2 separate regions of the Homo sapiens genome follow, and region 1 is linked to region 2. Evidence: fine-mapped expression QTL. A gene starts in region 2. The other region holds a variant in brackets. All regions are shown on one strand. Distances are from middle to middle.

The links. PIP is the estimated chance that this variant, and not a neighbour inherited with it, causes the effect.
Region 1: its variant is the best candidate, but not a certain one, in a credible set for the expression of PTGDS in pancreas (GTEx, PIP 0.72).

What each region holds. Positions count from the first base shown.
Region 1 is chr9:136,603,734-136,615,823 of GRCh38, reverse strand. LINC01451 (long intergenic non-protein coding RNA 1451) reads left to right here. Exons shown (of 3, transcript NR_135288.1): 1 at 1-1,700; 2 at 2,921-3,121; 3 at 3,654-3,796. Among named protein-coding and RNA genes, the nearest start is that of LINC01451, 7.4 kb to the left of the region's middle. RefSeq lists silencers at 213-507, 10,957-11,137 and enhancers at 7,802-8,651, 9,502-10,351. The variant A/G (reference allele first, on the strand shown) is at 5,383.
Region 2 is chr9:136,973,293-136,981,785 of GRCh38, reverse strand. It overlaps PTGDS (prostaglandin D2 synthase), which reads right to left and starts at 4,282. Exons shown (of 7, transcript NM_000954.6): 1 at 4,094-4,282; 2 at 2,654-2,793; 3 at 2,487-2,563; 4 at 1,724-1,840; 5 at 1,502-1,603; 6 at 931-953; 7 at 44-207. The coding sequence starts at 4,207. The coding sequence ends at 931. It also overlaps LOC124902312. RefSeq lists an enhancer at 2,243-3,222.

The sequences.
Region 1 (12,090 bases), 370 kb after region 2:
CTCGTGGCTCAGAGAGGTCAGGTAACTTCCCCAAAGCCTGTCTGGCCTCCCAGCACCATCCCTAGTCCCAGAGGGGAGGTGGAATGAAGGCAGGGCTAAGGCCAGGCTGCATGGAGGCAGAGGCACCTGCCGGCCTGCAGGACCAAAGGTTCTATTGGAGGCAGTGCCTGGGCAGACAAAGGCCCTCAGATTCACAAGCTGAAGCCCTAGCACCCAGGGCCCCAGTGTGCTACTGTGTTTGGAGACAGGTAAAGGTTGTCAAGGTAAGACAGGGTGGCCCTGATCCAATATGACTGGCGTCCTTGTAAGAAGAGGAGATTGGGACAGACACGCCCCGAGGGATGGCCATGTGAGGGCGCCTCAGGAAGACGGTGTGCAAGAGCGGGAAGCGGGGCCTCGGAAGAGCCAGCCCTTGGATCTCGGGCTTCCAGGAGAATCAGTTCCTGCAGTTGAAGCCACCAGGGTCTGTGCAACTTTGTCACAGCTGCCCGAGCTGACAAATTCACCTGACTTAAGCCCCCCGCCCCACCCGACCACAGTGTCACCCAGATGCTTGGCAGGTGCTGTGGCAGGGGCTGGGTCCCTGCTCGACCTTCGGGTGCCGGGGTGTCCCGTATAAGAGCAGCACAGCCACCGCCACGGCCACTCGCAGTTCCAGGCTCCGGGCAGCATCTGGGACCCCAGTTCCTGTTGTGAGAGGCTCCCCACTGCCATCCCACCCCCTGCAAGGTGCCTCGGAGAGCGGCTGGAGGCTGACGGGTCGAGGCCTGGGTTTTACGGTCCTGCCTGGGTTTCTGTGTGGCCTGGGGCTGCCTACCATCTTTCCCTCTCTGGTCCCCCCTACTCTCATATACCAGGCTGGGTGACTGGGGCCCAGGAGCGGCCCCCCCCTCCTCTGGGCTTCCTGGTGGCACCCCTGGCCTGACAGCCCCTGGGAAGGCCTCCCCTCTCCATCTCGGGGCCCAGCCCGGCCCCACCTGCTGAGCTGCAGCCTCCAAGGCCTCCTTCGCACGCGTGTCAGCTCTGACCTCAGGGCTCCCCACGCGTGTTCCCCTCTAGGAAGGCCCCCCCAGGGGCTCCCCAAAATCCTGTCCTCCCTGAAGCACCTGTTCTTCGTGCTCCTCCATGAGGGCCCGCACGGGGCCGCTGACCGCAGTCTCAGTCACAGCCTGGGAGCGCCTGGAGGTTGGGGGGCAGCAGGCGCTCAGTCAGTCCTCGGGTCACCATGGATGGCCTTGCTGTGTGATCCACACTGAGGCCCAGTGGTCAGCTGGGGGGCTGGACAGGAGGCAGCCACTTCCTGGCCTGGCTGGTGACTCACAGGCCCGTTTCTGGGAAAACTCCCACCCACCCCCACTCAATCCGGATGGCGCAGAGCTCGCTGTGGGGACCAGCTGTGGGAAGTGCATTGTGATTAGGGGCCGGGTCTGGGGGTGGGGAAGGCGGGAGCCGGGGCGGAGGGTGGGGTGGGGTGTGGGACGTCTCCACCAGAGGCCTGCCTGGGCTGCTGAGCTGTGCATCCCGTGTGCCCTGACGCTCCACATGCTCCCTCACCGGGCAGGGGTCGGGGGCCCCGAATATCATCACAGGGAGACCACACGAGGCTCCTGCCTGAACCCCTCCTCAGGTCCCTCACGCTCAGGGGTGCCTGGCCCAGCCTCGCCTTGCCCAGCCTTGCCAAGGCCAGCACAGCCCAGGAGGTGCACCCCCTGGGGTCCCACAGCTCCGAGGGGCAGCGGGTGGCCGAGAATGAATCCGCAGGGCTCTGGCTGGATGCTGGAGGAAACAGGCTGCTTCCAAACGGGGCTAGGACGTGGGGACTGTCCCCCCAGGCTTCCCCGGCCAGAATCCAAATGCCATTTGCCCAGCCGGGCCCTGGAAAAACATCCTCTGGGAAGACTCCGGGGAGGGGAGGAGGCCTCTGGCTGGGTGGGGAGCAGGGCCCAGGCCTGCTGAATAAACACCCAGGGACCCTGCAGAGTGAAAACAGAGCCACAGCCGGCCAGCCCCTCCCAAGCCCATTTGGCTTCTGCAGCCCTGACCCTGCTCAGGGAGTCTGGGCAAGTCTTTTTTGTCTTAACAGCTTTATTGAGATACACAATTGGCCCTTGATCAATGGGGGACTCGGGCGCCAACCCCACACAAAGTTGAAAATCCTTCTATTTATATATATTATAAGGTCTCAAACTCTTGACCTCAAAAAAAATATATACATATATTTTTAGACAGTCTTGCTCTGTTGCCCAGGCTGGAGTGCAGTGGTGCAATCTCGGCTCACTGCAAGCTCCACCTCCTGGTTTCAAGTGATTCTCCTGCCTCAGCCTCCCAAGTAGCTGGGATTACAGGTGCACGCCACCATGCCTGGCTAATTTTTGTATTTTTAGTAGAGATGGGGTTTCACCATGTGGCCAGGCTGGTCTCGAACTCCTGACTTCAGGTGATCCGCCTGCCTTGGCCTCCCAAAGTGCTGGGGTTTCTATATTTATTTATTTATTTATTTTTTGAGATGGAGTCTCGCTCTGTCGCCCAGGCTGGAGTGCAGTGGTGGGATCTTGGCTCACTGCAAGCTCCGCCTCCTGGGTTCACACCATTCTCCTGCCTCAGTCTCCTGAGTTGCTGGGACTACAGGCGCCCGCCACCATGCCCGGCTAATTTTTTGTATTTTTAGTAGAGATGGGGTTTCACCGTGTTAGCCAGGATGGTCTCGATCTCCTGACCTCGAGATCCGCCCGCCTCGGCCTCCCCAAGTGATGGGATTACAGTTGTGAACCACTGCGCCAGACCCAAGTATAACTCTTGATTGCCCCGAAACTTAACTACTCATAGGCTACTATTGACCAGAAGCTTTACCAATAACATAAACAGTCGATGCACGTTTTTGTATCGTGAATGTGTGATATAGTGTGTTCTTACAATACAGTAAGCCAGAGAAAAGAAAATGCCATTCGGAAAATCCTAAGGAAGAGAGGATGCATTTCCTCGTCTCCACGTGGAAGCGGATCACCCTAAAGGTCTTCATCCTGGTCTTTTTCATGCTGAGGAGGCTGGGGAGGAGAAGGAAGAGGAGGGGCTGGTCTTGCTGACCCAGGAGCAGCAGAGAAAGGAGAAAATCCACGTGCAGGTGAGCCCAAAGTTCAAACCCGCGTTTTTCCGGGGTCGGCCGTAATTCACGCTCCATGAATTTCTCCACCGACAGTGGCGATTCCACCATCTCCAGCACGTTCAGCTACGTGCGGCCGTCACCACCGTCCATTCAGGACATTTTCTTTTTTCTTTTTCGGACGGAGTCTCGTTCTGTCGCCCAGGCTGGAGTGCAGTGGCGCGATCTCGGTTCAGTGCAATCTCTGCCTCCCGGGTTCAAGCAATTCTCCTGCCTCAGCCTCCCGAGTAGCCGGGATTACAGGCACGTGCTACCACCACGCCCAGCTAATTTTTGTATTTCTAGTGGAGATGGGGTTTCACCATGTTGGCCAGGCTGATCTTGAACTTCTGACCTCAGGTGATCCGCCCGCCTCGGCCTCCCAAAGTGCTGGGATCACAGTTGTGAGCCACCACAAAGCCTGGCCCAGAACATTTTCATCAAAAATAAACGTCATCAGCCCAGCCCCAGCCCCCCAGCCATAAAGACCCACTCAGCCACCTTCTGTTCCCAGGGGCTGGCCAGCGCTGGGCTTCTCGGGAATGGAATCACACACGGACTGTGGCGTACACATCACAACTTTAAACCCCGTCCGTACTGAAGCCTGCGTCCGAATTTCTTCTGTTTTTGTGGCGGAAGGATAAATATTCCATTGTACAGACGGTCTACCCGGTTCATCCGTCACCCACCCATGGGCACCCGGGCCGTTTCCACCCTTAGTGAAGGAAGCCGCACGGGTGTTTGTGCGGACAGGAGCTTCCGTTTATCTTGGGCGCACACCTAGGGGTGGAGTTGCTGGGTCTCGTGGTGACTGGTTGTTTCGGGAGCTGCCGGCAGGTGACCCAGCAGCTGGGCCGGTCCACATTCCGTCCAGCAGCGTGCGAGTCTCTGATCTTGGCGCCCACACCCCTGGCTGGCTCTCTCCTCCCTCCGACTTCGCAGCCACACCGGAGGCAGGTGGCAATGTGAGTGGGGACCGGGCACGCGCAGGGGCTGACTCCACACCTCGCAGGGCTGGTCTGCAGATCTCCCTGGGAGGCAGGAACATCACGCCCCCATTTCAGAAGAGGATGCTGGGCTCAGAGAGGCCCACCAGCAAGTTGGGCCCTCACTGGCCACTTCCTCCATTCTCTGGACTCGGCAGGAACTCAAGGTGTGCGGTCCCTCCCTCGGCGCCCAAGCCCCACACTGGGCCTGCCCTGGGCATGAGTTGGCCATTGGACCTGAGGCTGGAGAACCTGCCTGGGACAGAACAAAATTCAAGTGTGAAGTTCTGGAAGGTTCTGGAGGGTTCCAGAGGCCTCCTGGAGCTCCCTGGGTCCCCTGGACTCCACATGAGTGGCCACCCAGCCTGTGGTCTACGGCTGCCTAGGTTCACCCCCTTGGTCCCCCAGACACACACAGGGCAGCCCTTGTGTTCCTGGGGCCGCTGGTCCTGCAGCGTGAGCTGCCACCTGTAGGGATCCCTCCCTGCCTGCCCACACCTGCCCCCCACGGCCGCCCCCCCTGCCTGGCCGCACCTGCCCCCCACGGCCGCCCCCCCTGCCTGGCCGCACCTGCCCCCCCACGGCCGCCCCCCCTGCCTGGCTGCACCTGCCCCCCATGGCCGCCCCCCTGCCTGGCCGCCCCTGCCCCCCATGGCCGCCCCCCCTGCCTGGCCGCACCTGCCCCCCATGGCCGCCCCCCCTGCCTGGCCGCACCTGCCCCCCATGGCCGCCCCCCCTGCCTGGCCGCACCTGCCCCCCATGGCCGCCCTCCCTGCCTGGCCGCACCTGCCCCCCATGGCCGCCCTCCCTGCCTGGCCGCACCTGCCCCCCATGGCCGCTTCCCCTGCCTGGCCGCACCTGCCCCCCATGGCCGCCTTCCCAGCTCAGGCTACAGGGAGAGGCCAGAACCTTTTCTGCTCCCGGAACCCACCGTCCACTGCTGAGCGCTGAGTTCCCAGCTCTGCGGCTCTGACCTGACCTCCCCCTCATGCCCATATCTACTGCTGAGCGCTGAGCCTCGGGCCACACAGCCTGGGGCAGAGGTCAATGGCTCAGTGCCTCATGGAGCAGCTCATTGGCAGGGGCCACACCCCGAGGCCTCCTACCAGCAGGGTGGACGTGGGGGCGCAGGCTTGGAGTCCAGGGAGCCTGGTCCCGAGGGTGGGTGCCCTCCAGCGAGTCCCGTCACAGGGCTCCTGACTGGCCTGAGGGTCAGCTCCCCTCCAGCGCCCGTGGGGTGGGCTGCCATCTCCATTT[A/G]CAGAGGAAACAGGCCTGGGGGCTGTGGCCACTAGAATAATGCTGGAAAACACCGAAGTCGCCCTCCCCTCCGCCCCCCCACCCCCCTCCCCCGCCCCATGCAAGTCCTGGGCCTTGTTGCTGTGAAGCCGACACCTGGCCCTGGGAGCCCCAGAGGACGGTAGGTTCTGGAGCGCAGGGCGGCGGGCTGTGCAGGGGCTCTCCAGTGCTGCAGTCACATCGCCTCCCCAGGCCTGGCTGAGCTGCAGCCCCACTCCACACAGCAGCCCTCGGTAACCCTTTGGGCAGGACCACCCTGCCAGCTGGCTTCCTAGAAACTGCCGCCCTTCCCTGCAGGTGCCTTAGGGAGGTGGCAGCTGGCCAAACCTGCCCGACTCCCTGGTCCCTCTGTCCCCTGAAGCCCATGAGGGCTGGGGAGCCTTCTGATAGCTCTGCCCTCCACTGCCCGGCCCGGTGGGAGGGGCAATTCCACTGGCAAGCACTTCTGGCAGGGAGGCAGCATCGCAGGGAGGGGCGGGGGGAGATTGGATACCCCAATGCCACCCGCTCGTTCCAAGGCGCATGCCAGGGCCATCTAGTACCCCAGGGCGCAGGGGCGGCAGCCTTCCAGGCAGCGCAGACCTCTGGGTCACCCTCCAAGCCCCAGGCCTGAGCGCTTGAAGGCCTGTGGCTGCTGCCACCACCCCACAGATGGGCTCTGGGGGACAGAGAGTGCCCAGTCTCCTCCGCACCTCAACTGACTTGCTCCAGGCCTGGCAGAGCAGGTGCTCGGAAAAGATTTGCCGAGGGAAAGGCAGAGAAGCCGCGGTCCTCTGGCCCGGCTACAGCGGTGCTTCCCAAGGAGCTGCTCACCCTCAGAGCCACTGTTCCTCCAGGGGCCTCCCCTCCGAGCCTGACCTGCCCCCAGCCCGACCTGTCCCTAGCGGTGATGGTGGAAAGTGGGTCCCCAAAAAGTGCGGGGGGTTGGAGAGGGGGCTCAGGAAAAGTCTGGGGCCCGGGGCCAGTCAGTGGGTGCTGGGAGGGTTATCTGCCAAGAAATGTGACCTTGGGGCAGCTGGCTGGGGGTGCAGCAGGCACTGGGAATGTCCTGTGGACACCCTGGAGGGGCAGCTGCAGGGAGGGGCCGCGCAACACTGACCGGGAGTTGCCTGGAGCCCCTATTTGGCCATGGCCGCCCACCCGCCTGGCCCTGCCCTGGGGGCCTCAGGTTCCTGAGATAGGGGTCTGGGCCATATTCCAGGGGAGAAGACCCCCACTCTCCCTGGGATGCCCTCCTCAGAGCAGGGGCATGCCATGCCTTCCCTTCCCCCAGCCACCAGGTACCCCGCCTGCCCGCAACAGACCCGGGGGAAACACACTCAGTAACTCTTTACAGCCTCTCCAGGAAGAGCCCCGCAGAGGGCAGGGGCGGGGAAGGCCCCATCGTCAGGGCCATTTGCTGGAGCTTTGGGCCAGTTTTCCAGGGCCCCTGAGCAGATGGCCCCGGCCCGTTTGGCATTTGTCCCTCAACAAGGAGACCCCGCAGCTCCTGTTTTCCCAGGAAGTGGGGCCAGTGCCCAGAGGACAAAGAGACAGAAAGAGACAGACAGTGAGACAGAGAGACAGTGGGAGACTGACTGAAGGAGAGAGACCCAGTCAGGAGAGAGTCACAGAAGCATCCAGAGAAGATGGGGAGGAGAGATACAGACCCGGCCGAGAGCGATGCGGAGGGGCTTCTGCAGGAGGACCAGGGAGGCCAGGCTGGGCCCCACCCGGCGCCCCGGGCACAGGGACAGGGGAGGCACAGGCTGGATCAAAGATCTTTGAAATTGGGATCAAATGCTCAGGTTTTATTGGTGCTCTTACTGTGTAACTGTGTAATTGGGGCAGGGACAGTGAGGCTGTCCCCCTGGGAGCCACTTCAAAGGCTAAAGGATTCCTGAGCTCTTTTCTCCCTCCTTCCCTCCTTCCCTCTCCCCTCCTTCCCTCCCTCCCTCCTCCTTCCCTCCTTCCCTCCTTCCTTCCCTCCCTCCTCCCTCCCTCTCACCTCCTTACCTCTCTCCCTCTTTCCCTCTCCCTCCTTCCCTCCCTTCCTCCTCTCTCCCTCCTTCCCTCTCCCCTCCTTCCCTCCCTCCCTCCCTCCTACCTCCCTCCTTCCCCCTTCCTCCCTCCCTTCCTCTCCCCTCCTTCCCCCTTCTCCTCTCCTTCCTTTCCCCTTCCCTCTCTCTTCCCTTCTTCCCTCTCTCCCTCTTTCCCTCCCTCCTCCTTCTCTCCTTCCCTCCCTCCTCCCTCCCTCCTTCCCTCCCTCCTCCTTCTCTCCTTCCCTCCCTCCTCCCTCCCTCCTTCCCTCTCTTCTTCCCTCCCTCCTCCCCTCCTTTATTCTTCCTCCCTTCTTTGAGGACAAAGCCATGAGGGAGGGAATATGTTTCCACCAAGCTGATGCTGACTGTGTACCTCCTCTAGGTGTCCTCAGGCTGGGCTGAGGACGCAGAAGGGAACTGCCAGTCCCTGGCTGGCACCAGGCTAGCTGGGGGGCGGCAGCTCTAAAAGGACCATGTGGGCAGAAAGGTGTTGGGAGCAGCAACTCAGCAGTCAGGGGTGAGGGAGGCCTCCTGGGCCAGTGAGTTGGCCTTGGACTGTTGAGGAGAGAGAAAATCACCTCCCTCCTCCTGGACGTTGGGCCTCTGCTAACGTCACCAGCAGGCTCCACACCCTGGTATCCTCACGCAGGTGGCTCTGTTTGGTGTCTCAGCCCAGGTGCTCTGACCCGGCCTTCATTCCCTCCTGGCCTTGTGGGAACCATCCAGCCGCTGGATCTGTGCGGAGCTGTCCAGCTGCTGGGGGCCAAGGCAGGGCGGGGCGACTCCATGCTACAGCCGTGGGGGCGTCACTGTCCGGGCCCTCCCCGCACAGCCTCCCTGGTGCATGTTGGCTCCATCTGGAATTAGCCACTGGGCCCACCCCCTTGGGTCCCTGGCCTGGGAACCCTCTGCTCCGCCTCCCCAAACACCTGTCCAGACCAGCTGCCCCTGGGCGTCCGCGGGCCACTCTGCCCGTCAGCTCCCCTCCTGCCCCAGCTCTGGTCTTTGGGACCCCACCCCTATGCAGGGTAGACTGTGGTCTTTGGGTGTGGTTCTGTGTGTCTCTGGCTGGGACCCCCTGAGGACAGGACCAGGGCCAAGGTTGCAGCTCAGGGCAGCCAGTTGGCAAACTCAGGATGGACCCAACTTAAAAGTGCCACGAGCAGGTGGGGGCATCACAGGCCAGGGCACTGCCCACACTGCCAGCTGGCAGCCCCACCGCACCCCAGGCCCGGGAGAAAGGGCCCGGCTGCCACCTCAGCCTGGATGGAGCCCACGCTTCTGCCTCAAGGAGGCAGGGTACTCACAGGCACCCAGAAACTTTCCCTCCCTGCCAGGGGCCAGAGGCCTTTGAAGTTGGAAGGGCTGGGGGCGGATGAGAAGGTCCAGGGGTGTAATTAGAGGAGGCGGCTTCACTCTCACACGTACAGTAAAGGTGGCTGCTGACTCCCAGGGCGGAGCCGGCCTTGCTTGCAGGACAGGTCCCTGTGCAGGGCCTCTCAGCTTCACGGCCACGTGGCTTCTCCCTCAAGAGGGCGGCTGGCTGGACGGGCTCCCCTCGAGGGCCATCCACTCCTCATGACTCCACACAGAGGGAGGCCAGGCAGAAGGGGGATTCCCAGAGGCCGTCCCTTCCCACTGCCTGGGCCTCCCAGGGGCCTTCGGGGTAACGTCAGGGCTTGTGGGTGCCCCCGTCTCCCAGCAGCCTGACACAGGTGTCCAGCTCCCGTTTAGAGAGCAAAGTGGGGTGTGGGACCCCAGCAGTGCCAGCCTTGTTGGGAAGGTTTGGGGGTTACATCTCAGCTGGACCTAAAGAGAGACAGACACTCGCTGGGTGATCCAGGGCAGGGGTGAGGGGCACTCCAGGCAGAGGGAAAGCCTGGACAGAGGCCCAGCAGCCTCATGAGTTTGGGGGCCTTCAGGCAGCTCAGTGTGAGGGCCTGGATATGGGACGAGGCTGCAGAGCTGGGCGTCTGCAGGGCGGAGGGAGCTGGAGGCCTGCTGCAGGCTCCCCTGGCCCACAGAGCACGGCTGCACCCCTGAGGCTGGAGCAAAGCTCTGTCCCTGTGCCTGGCTCTTGAAAGTGCCTCTGTAGCCACCCAGGCAGCTGGCGTCACCCAGGTCTCTCAGGCAAACAGCCGGCCCCGGGGCCTTGCCTCTGGCGGGTTGGAAATAGCCTCAGGTCCTGCCTGGGGCCCAGCCAAGAGCTGCCGTCCAGGGGAGGGGCTTGGAACGGGATTCCCCCTCTACATCCCACGTGGCCCGGATCCTATGGTGCCAGCCACACTGGTGTCCAGACAGACCTCAAACCCCCAGAACACGCCTCCTGGGTTTCCTTCTGCCCAGCGCTGGCTCTCTGCCCTCCTCCCGGCCTGGGCACAGGCCTTGCCTGAGGCCCCAGCACTGAACCCACTGCTGTCTCCACCGATCCCGATTGGCTTGTTTGGTTGGAGGATCAGAGCCTGCACACACTAGGGGCCTGGTAAAGACTTGTTAAATGGGCCAGGTGCGGTGGCTCATGCCTGGAATCCCAGCACTTTGGGAGGTCCGGGCGGGGAAGATCACTTGAGTCCAGGAGTTCGAGACCAGCCTGAACAATATAGGGAGATCTCATCTCTACAAAAAAAAAATTAAAAATTAGCTAGCATGGTGGCACGCACCTGTAGTCCCAGCTACTCGGGAGGCTGAGGCAGGAGGCTCTCTTGAGCCTGGGAGGTCAAGGCTGCAGTGAGCCAATATTGTGCCACTTATGAAATGAATGAGTTACTGTAGAACTAAACGTGGAGATGACGAGAAGAACGTGGATTTGAGCAGTTGCAGCTCAGGCGGCCTGGACTCCTTTCCTCTCACATGGAGCAGACGGGCGGCCTGGGCAAGCCCTCAGGGGTGCTGAGAATTGTGGCCACAGCTATGAGGCACAGGGCGCCTCCAGGCCCGAGAATCTGCTGGCCGTAGCCCTGCTGACCCTCGGCTGCCCAGCACTGAGTGGCCTCTCCTGACCCAGGCCCCGGTGCCCCTGTGAGCCCCAAGAACAGGAAGCCGGGCTCATGTTCCCCGTGACCCCAGGAGGCCGAGTTCACTTTCGCCGTGATCTCAGGAGGGCCACAGGCTCTTAGAACAACCCGGGAGGCAGGAGGGCCCTGAGCTCACCTAGCTTCCCTGTGGGAACCCAGCACCCAGTCCTGGGGTGCCATGGCCTCTGGTTCCCACCTTCAGGCACCCTTGGCCAGCGGAGCAGTGAGTACATGGAGAGCCTCCAGCCTCCTGCCGCCCTCCCCTGCCCCAGCGCTGCTTGCTGTCCCCTCCAGCCTGGACGTGCAGTGTGCTGGCAGCGCCTGAAGAGGCAGGGCCCTGGGCCTGGGCAGGCCCCCAGGCGGGCGGTGGGAGGGGAAGGAGCTGATAAGCCAGTCAGCATGGCCCTAACAGCTTGGGCAGGCGGAAGCCCGGAGATGGAACCTCGGGCACCCTCGTGGAAAGGGTGGCCTGGGTGGGGCTGGGGGAGGGCAGGGGATTCTGGGCTGAAATTCGCAGACAGTGGTGGAGGCCCAGGCCCCCGGTCCGATGCCTCTCTGAGCCTGTGTGGGGCAGCCCCAAGGCATGGGGCTCAGCCTGTGGCGGCTTCCAGCTTCCCCACTGACTTGCTGGGAGACCCCAGGAAACCCCCTCCTCTTGAAAATGGGGGTGATGTGCCTGGCCATGGCCATCCGTCAGAGAAGCAAGTGGAGCCCAGCAGGTGGGCTATCACGGCAGGCTTCCTGGAGGAGGGGGCTTTCCCCCAGCCCTTTATGGATGGTGTCCCAGCTGAGGCGATGGGGAAGGCAGTTCTCGATGCGGAGCTGGGAGGACCTGCATGTGTTCAGGGTGCGGTGGAGGGACACCTCGTGCTCATAGGCAGAGGGGTTTGGGATGAAGCTGGACTTCGGGGAGCCCAGATTTGGGGGCTGACTTTTGGGCAGGGGAGATTGGATCTTGGCACGGGGGCGCCATAGAGGGCTCCTGATGGGAGGGCCTGGAGTCCCAGGCGATAAACCTTCCCCGCCCTGCGGGCAGTGCTCTCCCTTCCTTCCTCCCTTCCCAGGCCCCGCCTAAGCGCTGATTTGGGGGATGGGAGAGTGCAGGCGGTGGGACCGGGGATATCCTGTCCAGGAGCCACCCCGCCGAGGGCCAGGACGTTGCCCACCCCGGCCTCCAACCAGCCGCTCGGACACACAGTCCGTCAGGAAGTCCCAGCCCTGCCTGGGGCGTCTCTGAGCTCAGCGAGGTGGCAGCTCCTGCCGGAGCCGTCCCATCCAGCACCTCCACCCACCATGGCCCTCGGCCCCACCCACGAGTCACCCCCTCCACCTGCCGGCCCCCATGGCCCTGCATCTCCCAGCACCCAGACCTCCCTCCTCCTCTCCTCATCCCCAGCCAGCACCTGCCCCACCCTCCACACCTCTAACCCCGACTTCTCCAGCTACTTCCTCATCTCTGCAATGGCCATTTGGGTTTCTTTTGGGGACAGCAGACACCTTAGCTGTGACACACAGCATGGGCCGTCTCCCTGGAAAAACGCACAACATTTCACACCCAATTTTCAGAGTCTCAAGGAGTTCCAGACCCCAGGAGGCTCACCTGTGGGCCACCTTGGGAGGAGTCCCTGGGCCTC
Region 2 (8,493 bases):
CCCAGGACGGGTGATGACAGCGCAGACAGCCAGGAGCCAGCTCTACTGACTTGCTTCCGGAGTTTATTGTGCAGGATGAAGCCTGAGTGGGCAGGGTTGCTTTGGCGGGGAGCCGGGGCAGGGGCTCGGGGAAGGAACAGAGCAGAGACATCCAGAGCGTGGGGGTCACCTGGCTGGCCGGGATCCCAGCTTCAGCCCTGGGGAGTCCTGAGGGGTGTGACCGAAAGGCTAGGATGGAGGACTGCAGTCTACCCCAGCCCACCTCCACTCCAGTCGATGGAGCAGGTGCGGGCTACGGGGACTTTTCTCTGCCCCCAGCCCCACTGAGCCCCGCTGAGAGAGCAAGATCCATCCCTGGGGCTTGGATCCCCGCTGCCCCAGGGTCTACAGACTCCACCCTTCCCAGCCCCAGGGTCCACAGACTCCAGCTCCAGCCTAGGCCTCCCTCCTGGGGGTGGTGGGTGAATCCGCCCTGAGCCTGCTCTCCGAGCTGTCCCACGGCATCCATGTAGCGTCCTTGGCCCTCCCCTTCCATCCCCTGTTCCCTCCCATCCTGTCTCCCCCACCCTGGTTTCCTCCTAGCCCAGGAGCCAGACACCCTTGCTGCCAGGTGGTCCCTGTGGTATAGCCCCTTGGCCTTGTCTGCCTGGGGCCTCGCACCTGCACCCCCCAACCATGAGCCTTCAGGAGTCAGCCCTGTTCCAGCCACTGGGACAGGTTTTCCTTCTGAGCCTCACACCTGTGCACCCATCAATGTGGGCAGCCCCAGTGTCTCCCGCCCGGCCCTGGACTGCAGCCATCGGGAAGGATGGGTCTGCAGCACCAGGCTGTCCTGGGGCCCTGATCCATCCCATCGCAGAGTGGGTTGGGTGGATGTGTGTTGAATGAATGAATGAATGAATGAATGAATGAATGAATGGAGTGGCTCACCTATTGTTCCGTCATGCACTTATCTGCCAAGAAAGAAGCCAGGGGCTGTCGTCAGAACCCCAGACTTAGGCCAATTTTCCCACTGGGCTTCCTGTTCCTCCCGTAACGCAGAGCTCGTCTTGACTGAGCCCCCAAACTGCACAGATCCCCCATCACCTCCCACCTCTCCCTGGGCACTGGAAACAAAGAGAGGGTCTTTCTCCACCTCTGCCAAGAGCAGGCTGTCCACCCCTAGGAGGCTGTGCCTGAGCCCAGTATGGTTGGTTCCCCTGTATCCCCCATGGGCACCCTCTACCCTATGCCCCCCACCAGGCTGAAGCCCCACATCCTGGGAGCTGCTGGGGCCTGGCACAGAGTGGGCGCCTGGTCTCCATGTCCCCCATGGAGGGGGCTCCTCATGAAGGGGCTGCGGGAGGGAGGTTCTGACTTGAACACTCACCCCCTCTGTCCCTGGCCCAGGCCTCGAGCAGGGCGGGGCCACCTCCTCCCCTCTGCCTCCCCCAGTCAGGAGACTGCCTGCCTGCCTCTAATCTGACCTTGATCCTCTCCCCATCAGATTAGGACCCCTCACCGGTTTGGGGCAGGAAGACAATGGTATCCTCTGTGAAGCCCTGGGCCTTGCAGAAGGCGGTGAATTTCTCCTTTAACTCAGCCCTGGGGGTCTGGGTTCGGCCTGGGACAGGGTGGAGACGGAGCTGGCCTCAGCGGGGGGGATGCTGTGTGCCCTGCCCTGGGTCTTGGGGAGCCCCCTCTGGTCAGGCCTGCGTGTGGGCGGCGTCCACGGGGCACGTACTGTAGAGGGTGGCCATGCGGAAGTCCTCGCCAGGGCCCTTGCTGCCCTGGCTGTACAGCAGCGCGTACTGGTCGTAGTCGGTCTCCACCACTGACACGGAGTAGGTGCTGCCCCAGTCTGGGAACCCAAGAGACAACCCTGTCGGGGACTCAGCCCCCCAAACCTCACCTCTGCTTCAGGGAAGGGGTGCACCTGTGGGCTTTGGGGGCACTCAGCCCCTCGGCTGGCCCGGGATGCTCCCCCACCCGGCTGCTCTCCAGCCAGTGCCCTGCTCTCGCCTGCACAGCCTGTGAACCCTGTCCCCAAACCAGAATCTGGGGGAGCCAGGCTCAGAAAACCAGGATTCCTGGTGCAGCCGCAGAAGTCGCTGCCAGAACCGGAAGTGAAGAGGTTTCCCCGTGGGAGCCATTCCCCAGGTGGGAGTGAGGAAACCCCTGGGTCCTGGGGAGGAGAATTGGGAGGAGGCATATGGAGGGGCCTTGGGGGGCTGCTTATGTGGGGAAAACTCCAGAGGGCAGGGAAGGGGCCTGACAAGACAATGGTGGGCTCCAGAGAGGATCCAACCCCCTGGAGGAAGGGTCTCTCTGTCCCTAACACTTGTGCATGGGTAGTCACGCCCAGGCCTGGCCTTTGCCTCTGACGCTGGTGGGGCAGCCATCACCTCCCACCCCATGGATCTCCGCGGCAGGGGGCTGGCCCAGAGTCGTCCCGGCAAGTGTCGCCCCCAGGCTGGGCCCAGGGGGCCGGTGGAGGCCCCACTCACGGGGACTCCGGTAGCTGTAGGAGCCGAGGGACCCCGCGGGCTGCAGCAGCATGGTTCGGGTCTCACACTGGTTTTTCCTGTAGGTGGGTGACCTCAGGGTCAGGGGTTAGGCCCGAGGGTGTCCCTGGACCTCTCCGTCCCAGAAACCCACCTGCCCGCTGTCCCACCTGAGGAAGGTGGAGGTCAGGTTGAGGCCACCATCCGTGGCAGGGGCCACCACAGACTTGCACATGGACAACGCCGCCTTCTTCTCCCGGAGCCAGCTCGAGTTGGAGGCGAGGCCCGCGCTGAACCAGCGCCCCAGGAACTGCGGCGAGCGACCCCCACCCGCGTCGGCCAGGACCCTCCGGACCCACCTGCGCCTACCTGCGGGGGCGCCTCTGCCGTCTACTCCTCCGGTCTCCAACCCGGCCCCGCCCCCACGCCCAATCCCCCGAGCAGCCACGCCCCTCACGCCCCGCCCCAGGAACTGACCCCCGCCCCTCAATCCCCGCCCCAGGAGATGACCCCGCCCCTCACATCTCCGCCCCAGGAGCTGACCACGCCCCTCACATCCCCGCCCCAGGAGATGACCCCGCCCCTCACATCCCCGCCCCAGGAGCTGACCACGCCCCTCACGACCCCGCCCCAAGAGCTGGCCCCGCCCTTCATGTCCACAACCAGGGAACTGACCGCGCCCCTCACGCCCCATGCCCCCCTAGGAGCTGACCCCGCCCCTCACGTCCCCGCCCCAGGAGCTGACCACGCCCATCAGGCCCCCGCCCCGCCCCGGGAGGTGGCCCCGCCCCTCACGCCCCGCCCCAGGAGATGACCACGCCCCACTTCCCCCTCCCCCGGAGATGGCCCCGCCCCTCACGCCTCAGCCCCAGAAGCTGGCCACGCCCCTGACACCCAGCACCCCCGTCTGGCCACGCCCCTCCCGAGGACAGTCCCTCACCCTCGCACGCCGCCCACCAGCCAGCTTCGGCCCCTCCGCCCCCGGTCCCGATTCTGTGCCCTGGCTGAGCGCCTGGCCCATACAGCGGGCGGCAGAGGACGTCGCATTCCTGGCGGGGATCGGGGCGGGTCTTCGGCTCAGCTCTGCGGACCGCTGGGGTTCTCCTCGACGCCAGGGAGGGGCGCGCGGCGCGGGGACCCGCGCTCCGGCGCTTCCCCGAGCAGCTCCCGGGCGAGAGCGCGCGTCGCCGGCTGTCTGTGCGGTGCGCGTCCCTCCCAACCCCCACCGCGCACGGAGTGTTTGTCGCCATCCCTGTGCCCCACCCGCCCGTGTCCTGGCACCCAGGTGTGGAACGTGCGCTCGTGTGTCCTCTGGGGGTCGCGTGCCCACAGGGGTGGACGTGTCTGGCTGGCGTGGGCGCGTGTGTGGCCCGGTGTCTGCGTGGCCCATCAGGGGAGACGGGACGCGGTGCCCAGGGAGGGCTTCTCGCGGGCAGCCTCCTCGGGCGGCTACCCAGCCTCCTTCCTGCGCGCCCGCTCAGTCCCTGGCCGGCACTGCCCGGCACTGCGGGACTTCGCTCACTCCTCCCAGGGGGAAGACCCAGCCGGAAAGTGCCCTTCCCCTGACAGGGTCCTGTAGCCCTTGGGGATGACGCAGGAAAGCCCCTCACCTTGTCCTGCTGGAAGTTGGGCTGCACGGAGACCTGGGCCTCCGGTGCTGCCTGCAGGTCGCCCAGCACCCCCAGCAGGGCCAGTCCCATCCACAGTGTGTGATGAGTAGCCATTCTCCTGCAGCAGAGCGGGTGTCCGGGGCCTGGTGCCAGTGGTGTGGGAGAGCGAGGGAGGTGTGCAGGAGGAGCGGAGGGCACTGAGGAGACCCCTATTTATGGGCCAGGCTTGGCCTCCACCCAGGGCCCGGGGACAGCCCACTGAACACTCGTGATGCTGGGGGATGGGGTGGCCAGGCACAGCTGCAGCCTCGTCCCCCACAGGGCGCTTATGCAAGAGGCCTGGGCCTGCTGCCCCAGCTGAGGCAGCGTGGGGGTGAGGCAGAGGCCCCTGCCCACTGGTCCCAGAGACAGAGCTGGCAGGGACCTTGCCCACCCTCCTCCTGCTGGCAGGGCCCACCAACCCAGCGGCCCTGATAGGGCAGGGGCTGTGTTCCTCAGCCATGCCCGCCTCCGAGGCCTCTGGTGACTTCCCACTGGGGGCCAGGACCCACATCTCACAGCCCCTACCATCATTCCCTTTCCGAGCCCTGCCACCCCAGAAGGGGACACAAGCCCCACTTCCACCCTGAGAGTTTGGTCCTGAAACGCCCAGCAAGTGAAGTGTTGATGAGAAGCTCAGGCCAAGGTAGAGAAACTTGATCTGGCCCGCAGGGTCCCGAGGGCCAGGTTTGCTGGGCATGGCTTCCCCCATGGCCAGCTGTTGGGGCTCTGATAGTGACCCCTGGGTGCCCATTTCAGCCTGGGGCACCTTTGGGCTTGAGCACAGGCCCTATCCCTTGCCAGAGGCCCCAACTTCCCCCAGCAATCCCCCCACCCCAAGTCTGCCCCCCGCCGAGTCTGGGCCTCCCCACCCCGAGTCTGGTCCAGACTCGGGAGCACCCCGTGGGGCTGTCCTGTTACCCCAGCGCTGCACCCAGCTCCTTGGGCCCCTCCAGCTCGTTGGCCCTGGCTGGGGCCCTGTCACAGGCCGTCACAGGCAGGCACATGTGGTGGGCCCTCTCTGGATTCTGTTGGGACTGAGCTTCCCTGGCAGGCGTGGTGGGTGAGCGCTGCCGCTGGTCTGAAGGTGAGCCCGGGTGGGGAGCTGGGAAATGTACATGAGAGCAGGAGTGAGTCGGATGGGGTGGGGTGGTGAGCTTCTACGGGGCTGCTGGCGACCACTGGGGGCCGGAGCCCGTCTTCTTCCTGGATTCTGTGGCCCATCCCTTGCTGGGGGCGCACGAGCCCTGGGAGTGGGCTGGTGTGGACTGCTTCCTTGTTCCCCTTCCCCAGTGCCCGGGGGTCAAGGAGCCCAGACTGGGGGAGGCGCATGCCTATGTAGCAGCAGGGGCTAGTGGGCAGCACTGGTGTCAGGGCTGGTGGGGGTGGCCGGGTAGCATCCCAGGCAGAGGCCAAGGTGAGGGAGTGAGTCCCAGGGAGCCGGGAGGCACCTGAGAGGCAGGGAGAAGGAGGGCAGCGGTGCAGGGGGGCCAAGGCAGTCCTGAGAACCCACTCCTCCACCTGGACCTCCTATCAACCCCTGCCTGAAGCAGCAGCGTGCTGCTAGCTCAGATGCCATCTGTGCCATGGGCTGAGAGGGAGAGTCTGTTGGAACAGATAGGGGTGGGGTGCCTAAACCCGGGACCCCGCGTGGCCCGCAAGCCTGGCTCAGCTACAGAGCTGGGGGCTGCCGTCAGGACAGGGGAGGGGCAGGAAGAGAGTTGCGGCTGGGATATCACCACAAGACTGGCCTCCTGCCCGCTGCCAGCTGAGTCCTGGCTGTCATTCCACTCTGGTGGGGCTGGTGGCTCGCTGACTGGCCTGGCTGGAGGTCCCAACCCAGGCTAGGCTGGTCCAGGACAAGAGCGCCTCCCGGTGGTGAGCAAGCTCTGGGGTGTGGTGGCGGGTGGCCCGGGGCAGGGAGACCCAGGACACGTGGCTCTGGGTCTGAATGGCTTCCGTCTGGGCAGGCCTGGGTCACCTGCCAGGGAGGGACTCTGAAGTCTGATGGGGCCGGGTCCTCCCATAGCCAGAGGGGTTCCCAGGGATCTCGGGTGTCCAGCCCTCAAACCCAGTGCCTGGAACAGGGACCAAGCCCCTCCTCTTCCCCATTTTCTAGTGGGCTGCAGAAAGCCCAGCAGGTCCCATGTCCCTTCTCCTCCCTGACCAGTCGTTACCGAGACCATATGGTCGTTGGCGCCTGGAGAGCTGGAAGAGCTAACAGGATCATGCTTCGGTTCAGGACGGACTCCTCAGTCCCTGTGGTCAAGATGGCCAGCAGGTGGTCAGAGACACTCCCCAGACACGGCTGAGTGAGGACCAGTGAGTGGGAGCTGCCCACGAGCCCTGATTCATGGGTGCACCTGGGCCCACCCGAGGGCTGGAGATTCATCTCTCACCACATCCAGGAAGGGCTGGGCAGTTGCCAGCTCCTGGCACGCCAGATTTCTCCCCTCCTCCCCCGGCTAGGACTGTGCAAGGTGGACAGGGGCAGGAGGGACCTTCGCAGAGCCTCTTGCAGCTTGGGCAGGGACAAGGACCACCCTGCACACTCTCTGTGCCCTTCCCTTTGCTCTGAGCTTGGCTGCCAGGCAGGACCTTAGTGGAGCCTGGCGGAGGGCTGGGCAGGAAGAAGGCTGGCCGCCCCACCCTGCTCTCTGGGAACCAGTCTCTTTGAGTCACAAAATGCAAAGACTTGGCCTCCACCCTAAGAGGTCACCAAGGCCATCCCCCTGCCTGCGGCCCAGGCAGGTCATGGACAAGCCTGGTGGCCTGGGCCTAAGCTCCCAGAACTGACCCCAACCTTTTCCTGGAGGGAAGCTGTCTCCACCCTGGGGCCCCGGCCAGCATCCTCCGGGGGCAGTGATGACCCTGTCCAGCATCCCCACCAATGGTTTGCCCTTGAGGGCCGAGGCTGTCCCAGTGACTGGTGGGAGCTGAGCTCGACTGAGTGTCCACCAGCCTCAAATAAACTCATGGGGACCTCGTGAGCCCCACCCACCTGCAGCCTGGGATCAACTCCCCCAGCCTGGGACTGGGGAGGGGCAGCCTCTACACCCCACCTTTCAGAGGTACCCAAGCCTCACGGCCCCAGAGGCTCACTCCTGCCAGAGCTGCCCCGCTGAGGATCTTCCATAGGGAAGGGCAGTGCCCGGGATCACTGAGACGCTGTGGAGTGTTCTGGACAAGTCAGGGGCAGAGCAGGAGCACCCCTGAGATTGTAGCCGGGGAGACCAGGGCCGGGTGCGGTGGGGGCAGCTCAGGGCTCCTCTAGGGGCAAGAAATTCTCCCCAAGGCCTCCCTGCGTCAAGGGAGCTGCTCTGTGATTGAAGGAGGCCTGAGTGGACGGGCCACGTGGGACAGCCCCTCCTCAGGGCATCTCTGAGCTGCTCAAAGCACATGGGACCCACTCTTCACCCAGCCCTCCTCTCTGTGCCTGTCTGTTTGGGTGTTCACTGACATGGGGGACGGCCACCTCTCCGCTCACCCTTTCTGGCTGCCTCTGGCCACCTCTCCCAGCACCACCCTGGAGGTCAGGCCCGCCCAGCAGCCGGGGACGGCGCAGAGGACAGGGCAGCCCGGGACAAGCCAGAGGATAGGGGAGCAGATATGTCCCTGGGACTTGAGGCTCATATGTGCATTGCTGGCCATGGGGTCCAAAGACGGTTATGGCCAAGCCTCAGCCAATTCTGCAGCTTTGGAGCCAGGGCTAGGCTGGCTGTCTGTGGGGGACAGATGGCAATTTGGGGGTGCTGAACGATCTGTCCAATGTGGGGTCCAGCAGGCTGGTCAGAGGCTGCCGCATCCCAAAGGTAGCAGGGCCGGGAGGAGGGGGCGGCCCAACCCCCAACACCACACCCGCACCCACACCCGACACCACACCCACACCCCTGGCCTCGAGAAGCTCAGCTCCAGGATCCCGGTGCAGTGGACCTCTGAGGCCCAGTCTGGCTTCAGGAAGCGCCCAGCTCGGCCATGGAAGGTCAGGGCTAAAGTGTCCCCACCTCACCCATTTAGGGGCTGGGCGGGAGCTCCCCAGGAGGGCAGGGTCTGGGCAGGGGCCAAGCCTGGGAGGGCCTCGCCTAAGGACCCCTGGGTCACTGTAGCACCAGGCTGGGCACCGCTCCCCACAGAGACCAGAAGCCGGAAGTACCATTCAGCGCAGGGGCTGGCTCCGGCAGGGCACAGGTGGAGACCCGATCCCAGAGGCTGCTCCCCACCTCTGTGCCCACCCCCGGTCAGGGCTGGGCCTGGATCTTCAGGGACTCCTGCCTCCCATCGGGGGAACGTGGGGTGGCACACAGGGAGCCTGGGCCCACGCCCCTGAGATGGGGGCTCCTGCCTCTCACTCTGGGGTTCCT